2 separate regions of the Homo sapiens genome follow, and region 2 is linked to region 1. Evidence: fine-mapped expression QTL. A gene starts in region 1. The other region holds a variant in brackets. All regions are shown on one strand. Distances are from middle to middle. Region 1 holds the start of PSME1 (proteasome activator subunit 1). Region 2 overlaps IRF9 (interferon regulatory factor 9).

The links. PIP is the estimated chance that this variant, and not a neighbour inherited with it, causes the effect. A credible set is the group of variants that fine-mapping cannot tell apart.
Region 2: its variant is the best candidate, but not a certain one, in a credible set for the expression of PSME1 in neutrophils (BLUEPRINT, PIP 0.75).

Annotation. Positions count from the first base shown.
Region 1 is chr14:24,133,645-24,138,028 of GRCh38, forward strand. It overlaps PSME1 (proteasome activator subunit 1), which reads left to right and starts at 2,550. Exons shown (of 11, transcript NM_006263.4): 1 at 2,550-2,657; 2 at 3,341-3,373; 3 at 3,499-3,561; 4 at 3,677-3,787; 5 at 3,876-3,921; 6 at 4,056-4,153. The coding sequence starts at 2,619. RefSeq lists silencers at 2,124-2,543, 2,594-2,883.
Region 2 is chr14:24,165,962-24,170,345 of GRCh38, forward strand. It overlaps IRF9 (interferon regulatory factor 9), which reads left to right. Exons shown (of 9, transcript NM_006084.5): 8 at 1; 9 at 161-604. The coding sequence ends at 235. Among named protein-coding and RNA genes, the nearest start is that of REC8, 3.9 kb to the right of the region's middle. The variant C/T (reference allele first, on the strand shown) is at 2,380.

The DNA.
Region 1 (4,384 bases):
GGCTGAGTCAGGAGAATCCCTTGAACCCGGGAGGCGGAGGTTGCAACGAGCTGAGGTTGCACCACTGCACTCCATCCTGGGCAACAAGAGTGAAATTCCATCTCAAAAAAAAAAAAGTTAACACATTTGGTCCTCACAACAATAAAAGTATGAGGTAGGTTGTACTGATCTTGATTGGCAAAAAAAAAAAAAAATTGAGATAGTAGTGTTCCCATTGTACAGTTGCAAACACTGAGACACAGAGGTTAAGTAACTTGTTCACAACTAATAAACAGAGGAGCCATGATTACAAAGCTAGATAATATGGGTATATCATCTATCCTCTAAACCAGGAATTAGCAAACTTTGGCCCTCCTGTGGCCAGTTTTGTATGACCTGCGAGCTAATAATTATATATGTATAATATATATATTTATATATTATATATATTATTATATATTTTATATATAATATTTGCATATATAATATATATATAATTTTTTTTTAAAGACAGAGACCTGGCAGTGATGGCAGTGTAATCCCAGCACTTTGGGAGGCTGAGGCAAGAGGATCACTTGAGCCCAGGAGTTTGAGACCAGCCTGGGCAAGATGGTGAGACCCTGTCTGTATAAAAATTTTTTTTAAAAGGTAAAACATTTTTTACATTTTTATTTTTATTTTATTTTTATTATTTTTTTGGAGACAGAGTCTCACTCTGTTGCCCAGGCTGGAGTGCAATTCTGGCTCACTGCAACCTCCACCTCTCAGGTTCAAGCGATCTCCTGTCTCAGCCTCCCGAGTAGCTGGGATTACAGGCCCCCACCACCACACCCGTCTAGTGTTTGTATTTTTAGTAGGCACAGGGTTTCACCATGTTGGCCAGGCTGGTCTCGAACTTCTGACCTCAAGTGATCTGCCTGCCTTGGCCTCCCAAAGTGCTGGGATTAGAGGCGTGAGTCACTGTGCCCGGCCATTTTTACATTTTTTAATGGTTGAAAAAGCAAAAGAATAAGAATATTTTATTACAGGAGAAAGTTACATGAAATTCAAATTCCAGTGTCTATAAAATGTTATCTCACCAAACTAATTCATTTACATATGGCAGCTTTCCTACTACAATGGCAGAGTTGAGTAGACAGACACTGTAAGGCCTATAAAGCCTAAAATATTTACTCTCTGGCCCTTTATAGAAAAAGTTGGCCAGACGCGGTGGCTCATGCCTGCAATCCCAGCACTTTGGGAGGCCGAGGCGGGCGGATCACGAGGTCAGGAGATCGAGTCCATCCTGGCTAACATGGTGAAACCCCGTCTCTACTAAAAATACAAAAAATTAGCCGGGCGTGGTGGGACGCGCCTGTAGTCCTAGCTACTCCGTAGGCTGAAGCAGGAGAATCGCTTGAACCCTGGAGGTGGAGGTTGCAGTGAGCCTAGATGGTGCCACTGCACTCCACCCTGGGCGACAGAGCGAGACTCCGTCCCCCAACACACACACACACACACACACACACACACACGTTTGCCAAAACCTGGTTTAAATCAGTAAATTATCCTGGAAAAAAAAAAAAAAACACCTGGCTAATATCAGAGAGATAAATGCTATGAATGTACTAAAACAGGATGATTTGTAATAGATTTGGAGGGAGGTTCCTTATAAAGGATGATGAAAATAGTTCTCTCTGAAGAGGTGACATCTAAACTGAGAACCGAATGACAACACCCAGGGTAAGGGTGTTTTAGGCAAAGGGATTATTAGCAAGGGCAAAGGCCCTGAGGCAGAAATGAACATGACACATCTGAGAAACAAATAGCCCAAATATTTGCAAGTGTAATGAATGAAGGGGCAAGCAGTAGAAAGTGGACTTAAAGGGGAGACAGGTGCGACAGCCTTTTGGATTTCATTCAAAGGTCAACAGGCAGCTGAGAAAGGGTTTTAAGCCAGAGAGAGGCATGAACCCGCTGCTCCGTGAGAGTGGGTTATAGAATGGCATCTGCAGCCGTGGTCCAGGAGAGAGTTGGTCCGGGCTTGGATAGGGATGCTGCCAGCTCTGGTGCCGGTGTTGCTACAGGTGCGCAGGATGTCGGCAGAGCCAGAGGCCCACGCTAGCAAGGCTAGGAAAGACAGGCCAGGTCTTATTCCATCTCTAGGGAAAGACGGAAGAGCCCTAAGTAAAGCTTATCTGTCCCAGGCGGAGCAGGGGAAGAAGAGAGCAGGTGGGGAGCCAGTTGGGAGGCGGGAGGTGGAGGTTGGGACGCGGAGAGACTGGCTTGGGCTTGGCGATGGGAGGACCCGGACCCGCCGTCCTCAGGCGGCGGGCGGCAGGTGGCGGGAGGCGGGAGGCGGGGACCGGGCCAGCGGAGGTGGGGAGCCTGGAAGCTGGCCCTCGCGAGGCGGCGCGGGGAGGGTGGGTGAAGAGCGCCTGTGCGCGCTAGGCGGAGCCTCACCCGCCGCCCTCCTCTGCGGCACCGCCCCTTCCATGGCAGGGCTGACCCCGCCTCCTCCATCCGACCCCGCCTCCTCCAGCCCTCCCCGCCCCACTACCCAGGAAGGCGGAGCTGGGTGCGAGCGCCCTACCGCTTTCGCTTTCCCTTCGCGGTGCCCACTCCACTCCTTGTGCGGCGCTAGGCCCCCCGTCCCGGTCATGGCCATGCTCAGGGTCCAGCCCGAGGCCCAAGCCAAGGTGAGCGCCGCGGGGTCTAGAAAGGGCCCACTGGGGAGGCGTGGCTGGAGCGGCCGGGGGCATCCCCGACCCGCCCCCCAGGCTCCCACGCGAGTCGGGGGCAGTCGGCCGAGCTGGCGCGCCCGGAGCACCTGCGCCCCGGGGAGGGCGGCGACTGCTGCCTGCGGGGAGAGGCGAGGCGGCCGTGGTTCTGCGGGGTGAGGTGAAGCGGAGAGCTGGCGTGGAGGGGAACTCCGCTGGCCTGGGGCCGGGGCCACACACAGACTGGGTGCGGGACTGCCCCAGCTACCTTCTGGCCTTTCCCTCAGGGAGGGTCCCGGGGCCCACCCCATCCCTGTCCTACTTGCAGAGGACTCTCAGCACCCCTCCTCACACCTGCCAGGCGACCCCAGAGATCTGTTCTCACGTGAACACTGGCCCTTCACCGCCAGGAATGTTCTCATCCCCCATATCCAGCCCCAGGGATACCCACTCCACTTTCCGTAGATCCAGGTCTGCAGAGATCCACCTTCTCCACCACCCCAACCCACCCTACAGGCATCCATCTCGCTTTCTTCAGGTCTGGCCTTAGAGGGATCCCCTCCACCCTTCCCCAGGTCAGGCCCTACATAACCCTAAGGGAACTGTCCTCAAATGAACTGGCCTTAAAGCCAAGTTTCTGAAGGGATGCGTGTGCCCCACAGGTGGATGTGTTTCGTGAAGACCTCTGTACCAAGGTAAGACATGCCCCATCAGCGTGGCCCCACCCCTGCCCAACTCCTACTGCTCAACCCTGCCTCACTACCTAGGACGGGCATTTGATGCTGACTCCCATCCTCCTCCACCCCCACCTCACACACAGACAGAGAACCTGCTCGGGAGCTATTTCCCCAAGAAGATTTCTGAGCTGGATGCATTTTTAAAGGTACCGCGGCTGGGCAGGGAGCTAGGGAGTAAAGGCCAAGAGAAGAGTCTGGAGGCTGTGAGAGTGAGGTGAGAGGAACTCCCTCACCTCCAGCCCTCCTCCCACCCTACACCAGGAGCCAGCTCTCAATGAAGCCAACTTGAGCAATCTGAAGGCCCCATTGGACATCCCAGTGCCTGATCCAGTCAAGGAGAAAGAGAAAGAGGAGCGGAAGAAACAGCAGGAGGCAAGCTGGGAAGACCTGGGAGAAGGGATCCAACTATGGGGGTAATCAACCTTAGTCCTGACTCTCATGAGCTCCTCTCTTTCTGCAGAAGGAAGACAAGGATGAAAAGAAGAAGGGGGAGGATGAAGACAAAGGTACTTGAAACCACAATGGTGGGAAGAGACTTGAGTCCCACTCACAGGAGCTCCTCCTAAGGATTTCTTTCCAGTCTCCCCTTCGCCCCTCACACAGGCTCAATCATGTGACTGACCCATTGCTCACTCTCTAGGTCCTCCCTGTGGCCCAGTGAACTGCAATGAAAAGATCGTGGTCCTTCTGCAGCGCTTGAAGCCTGAGATCAAGGATGTCATTGAGCAGCTCAACCTGGTAAGCCCTCCCCCTTAAACTCTCAGGCTTCAAGTCAAACCATTGTCCTCTTGGTCCCTGCCATTTAGGGCCTGGCACTTGCCAGGTTTTAGCAAGAGAGGGCACAGCAAGTGAAACCAGAAGTCCAGGCCCTGGGGCTCAGGATAGACCCGGCACGCCTCCACCCAGTGTGGGGAGGGAAGCAAGGGAGAATATGAAACTGGGAATTGGGTAGAGGGCTGATGTGGCATT
Region 2 (4,384 bases), 32 kb after region 1:
GGTGAGCTCGGAGCAGGGGTAGAGTACCCATCTAATGAGAGCAGAGACAGTGGTGCTCCAGGAGGCAAAGGGGGTCTCCCAGTGGGGAAGGAGCTCCTGGGGGTGGTGTCTGTCCCTGATGCACGCACTGAGATGCTCTTCTCCATCTCTTCCAATACAGATGGAGCAGGCCTTTGCCCGATACTTGCTGGAGCAGACTCCAGAGCAGCAGGCAGCCATTCTGTCCCTGGTGTAGAGCCTGGGGGACCCATCTTCCACCTCACCTCTTTGTTCTTCCTGTCTCCTTTGAAGTAGACTCATTCTTCACACGATTGACCTGTCCTCTTTGTGATAATTCTCAGTAGTTGTCCGTGATAATCGTGTCCTGAAAATCCTCGCACACACTGGCTGGTGGAGAACTCAAGGCTAATTTTTTATCCTTTTTTTTTTTTAATTTTGAGATATACGCCCTCTTTCATCTGTAAGGGACTAGGAAATTCCAAATGGTGTGAACCCAGGGGGCCTTTCCCTCTTCCCTGACCTCCCAACTCTAAAGCCAAGCACTTTATATTTTCCTCTTAGATATTCACTAAGGACTTAAAATAAAATTTTATTGAAAGAGGAATCAGTATCTGATTTTCTGGGAGAAGAAGGTAGCAGTGGTCACAGATAGAGATGTAAACTTAAGAGTGGGGCACTGGGGTTCTCTTCCTGCTGACATCTCCAGCCTCTTTCCTCTCCTCTGCCCACAGGTTCTGGCTAAGATGCTGCCTGGGCCCTGTGGGTCCTGGGCCTGGCACTCTACAGAGGTACCCTCTGGGCAGATAAGATTAGGGTGTGGGTTGGGCACCAAGCCTTCAGCCAGGCACTATAGCCACCAACTTCACATGGTAAAGTCTGGGCTCCACAGTTCTTGCTAGAAGGCCCCAACATCGGGCCTGAGGTTAGTTAGATTGGAGGTCTAAATGAAGAGGAGACACTTGAGGGTGACCTGAAACTATGGTCTAGAGGCCCTGGGACCTGAGAACAGAGGAGTCAGAGAGAAGAGTTGCTGAAACTGTACCTGCTGTTACTGGCACCTCTTCCTCCAGCACAATTTCACTGTCACCCCAGCAGGGTACTCCCAAACTGGATTCCTTGCTCTATCTAAGCCCCATAAAAGACACTCTGGCCGGCTGGGCGCAGTGGCTCACACCTATAATCCCAGCACTTTGGGAGGCCAAGGTGGGTGGATCACTTGAGATCAGGAGTTCGAGACCAGCCTGGCCAACACGGTGAAACAGCGTCTCTTCTAAAAATACAAAAATTAGCCAGGCCTGGTGGCGGGCACCTGTAATCTCAGCTACTTGGGAGGCTGAGGCAGGAGAATCGCTTGAACCCGGGAGGCGGAGGTTGCAGTGAGCCAAGATCGTGCTATTGTACTCCAGCCTGGGCAACAAGAGCGAGACTCTGTCTCAAGATTAAAAAAGAAAAAAAAAAAAAGCACTCCGGCCTAGACTGCCATGTCATGCTGTTCATGAGACTTGAGGGCTCCAAATTGGCTGACACTCTTCTTTCCCCCATGTTCATTTTACTACGAAACTGGAAGTTTTTCCTTCACCACAAGGCCACTTGTCACCTACTTTTTTGTACACTCACTTCCAGCAAACTAGTTCCAACCCAGGCCACAGCCTTCAGCTTCCTTCTTCCTGCATATGACACCAGCTTAGCTTTCCAGACTTCCTTCTGTCATTTCACCCTTCAGCCCTCAATGGTTCACACACATGATCAAATCTGGATGCCTAAGTCTTCCTAGGACCTTCTTGCTGCCTCATTTGACAAGCTTCAGTGCTGCCTTTGAGCCTCCCTGCCTCCATGGACCTCCCTTCTTCCCTTCAGTCTTGTCCATCATCCCACTGGGAAGCCAAGCACCTAGACATTCTCTGCACTAGCAGTGAAGAAATGAGGTACTGAATGCAGAGGTGTACAAACCCTGTTGTGCCCTCAATGTGATGCAATGTGATGAAATCCTTCCTGGACCTTCTTTGTACAAGGTCTAAATTATCTCCTTGACTTCCATTTTATTTTAATTATTTTGATTAAAAACAAAAACTTGGCTGGGCATTGTGGCTCACACCTGGAATCCCAGTAATTTGAGAGGCCGAGGTGGGTGGATCACCTGACGTCAGGAGTTCGAGACCAGCCTGGCCAACATGGTGAAACCCCGTCTCTACTAAAAATGCAAAAAATTAGCCAGGCGTGTTGGTGGACACCTGTAATCCCAGCTACTTGGGAGCCTGAGGCAGGAGAATCGCTTAAACCCAGGAGGCGGAGGTTGCAGTGAGCCGAGATTGCACCACTGCACTCGAGCCTGGGCAAAAAGAGCAAAACTCCATCTCAAAAAAAAAAAATTTTTTTTTT[C/T]GGCTGGGCGTGGTGGTTTATGTCTGTAATCCTGGCACTTTGGGAGATCGAAGTGAGAAGACTGCCTTAGCCCAGGAGTTTGAGACTAGCCTGGGTGACATAGTGAAACCCTACTTCTACAAAAAATTCTTTTTTTTTTTTTTGAGACAGAGTCTCACTCTGTTGCCCAGGCTGGAGTGCAGTAGTGCAATCTTGGCTCACTGCAACCTCCACCTCCTGGGTTCAAGTGATCCTCCTGCCTCAGCCTTCTGAGTATCTGGGATTACAGGTGCGCACCGCTATGCCAGGCTAATTTTTGTATTTTTAGTAGAGACAGGGTTTCACCATGTTGGCTAGGCTGGTCTCGAACTCCTGACTTCAGGTGATCTGCCCACCTCAGCTTCCCAAAGTGCTGGGATTACAGGCGTGAGCCACTGCACCTGGCTCCCAAAAATTCTTAAAAATTAGCCAGGTGAGGCCAGGCATGGTGGCTCACACCTGTAATCCTTGCACTTTGGAAGGCCCAGGTGGGTGGATCACTTGAGGTCAGAAGTTCGAGACCAGCCTGACCAACATGGTGAAACCCCATCTCTACTAAAAATATAAAAAAAATCAGCTGGGCATGGTGGCACATGCCTATAATCCCAGCTACTTGGGAGGCTGAGGCAGGAGAATCACTTGAACCCAGGAGGCAGAGGTTGCAGTGAGCCAAGATCGTGCCATTGCATTCCAAGCCTGGGCATCAAGAGCGAAACTCCATCTCAAAAAAAAAAAGTGGGGGAAAAAAAAAAGCCAGGTGTGGTGGTGTGTGCCTATAGTCCCAACTACTTGACCTCCTAAAGTGCTGGGATTACAGGTGTGAGCTACTATACCTGGCCTCCTTCCGTTTTCTATCATACCCCACATCCAATTCATCAGCAAATCCTGTCGCTCGCTATTCCTTCAATATGTATCCAGGGTCTGACCACTTCTCTCTGTTCCCATCAGCAACACTTTGGAACAAACTACCACCATCTCTCATGTCTCCTCCTCTGCTTCCTTCACATCTGTTTCCACACGTGTCTACCTTAAGCTATTCTCAACACAGTAGAGATTCTTTTCACATGTAATTCTGATCATGTCACTCCTCTGCTCAGAACCTTCCAGTGGGTCCCAAATCACCCAGGGTAAAAGCCCAAATCCCCATAAGGACCTCTGAGGTCCTGTGATGCGACCCTACCCTCCTCTCTCTCTCTCTCTCGCCCCTTGCCATTCTTCCCCTGTCACTTTGCTCCAGGCTCCTTGAACCCACCAAACACATTTCTACCTCAGGGTCTTTGCATTTGCTGGTTCTTTTGTCTAAATTACTCTTCCTTCAGGTAGGCACATGACTTACCCACATTCTTCAAATTTTATCTCTTAAGAGAGGGGGCAAGGCTTCCCTGAGTACCCTCCCTAAATAGCAGCCGTCATTATTCTATCCTCCTATGCTGCCTCATTTTCTTCATAGCACTTACGGCCACTTCATGTATTTCTTTTTTTCTTTCTTTCTTTTTTTTTTTTTTTTTGACAGAATCGCCCATGCTGGAGCACAGCAGTGCAATCATGGCTCACTGCAGCCTCGACCTTCGGCTCAATCGATCCTCCTGTCTCAGCCTTCTGAGTAGCTGTGACTATAGGCATGTAATTTGAGAGGCCGAGGCGGGTGTCACCTGAGGTCAGGAGTTTGAGACCAGCCTGGCCAACATGGTTGAAACCCTGTCTCTACTAAAAATACAAAAAAATTAGCCAGGCATAGTGGCACATGCCTGTAGTCCCAGCTACTCAGGAGGCTTAGGTAGGAGAATTGCTTGAACCCAGGAGGCGGAGGTTGCACTGAGCCAAGATGGTCCATTGCACTCCAGCCTGGGCGACAAGCAAAATTCCATCTCAGAAAAAAAAAAAAAAAAAAAAAAAAAAAACTCTCAAATTGAAGGGGACTGTAAGAAGATAGGGTCAGCTCAGCTGCAGTAAGATATAAGTCTCAGGAAGAAGCATGCTCTGGAGT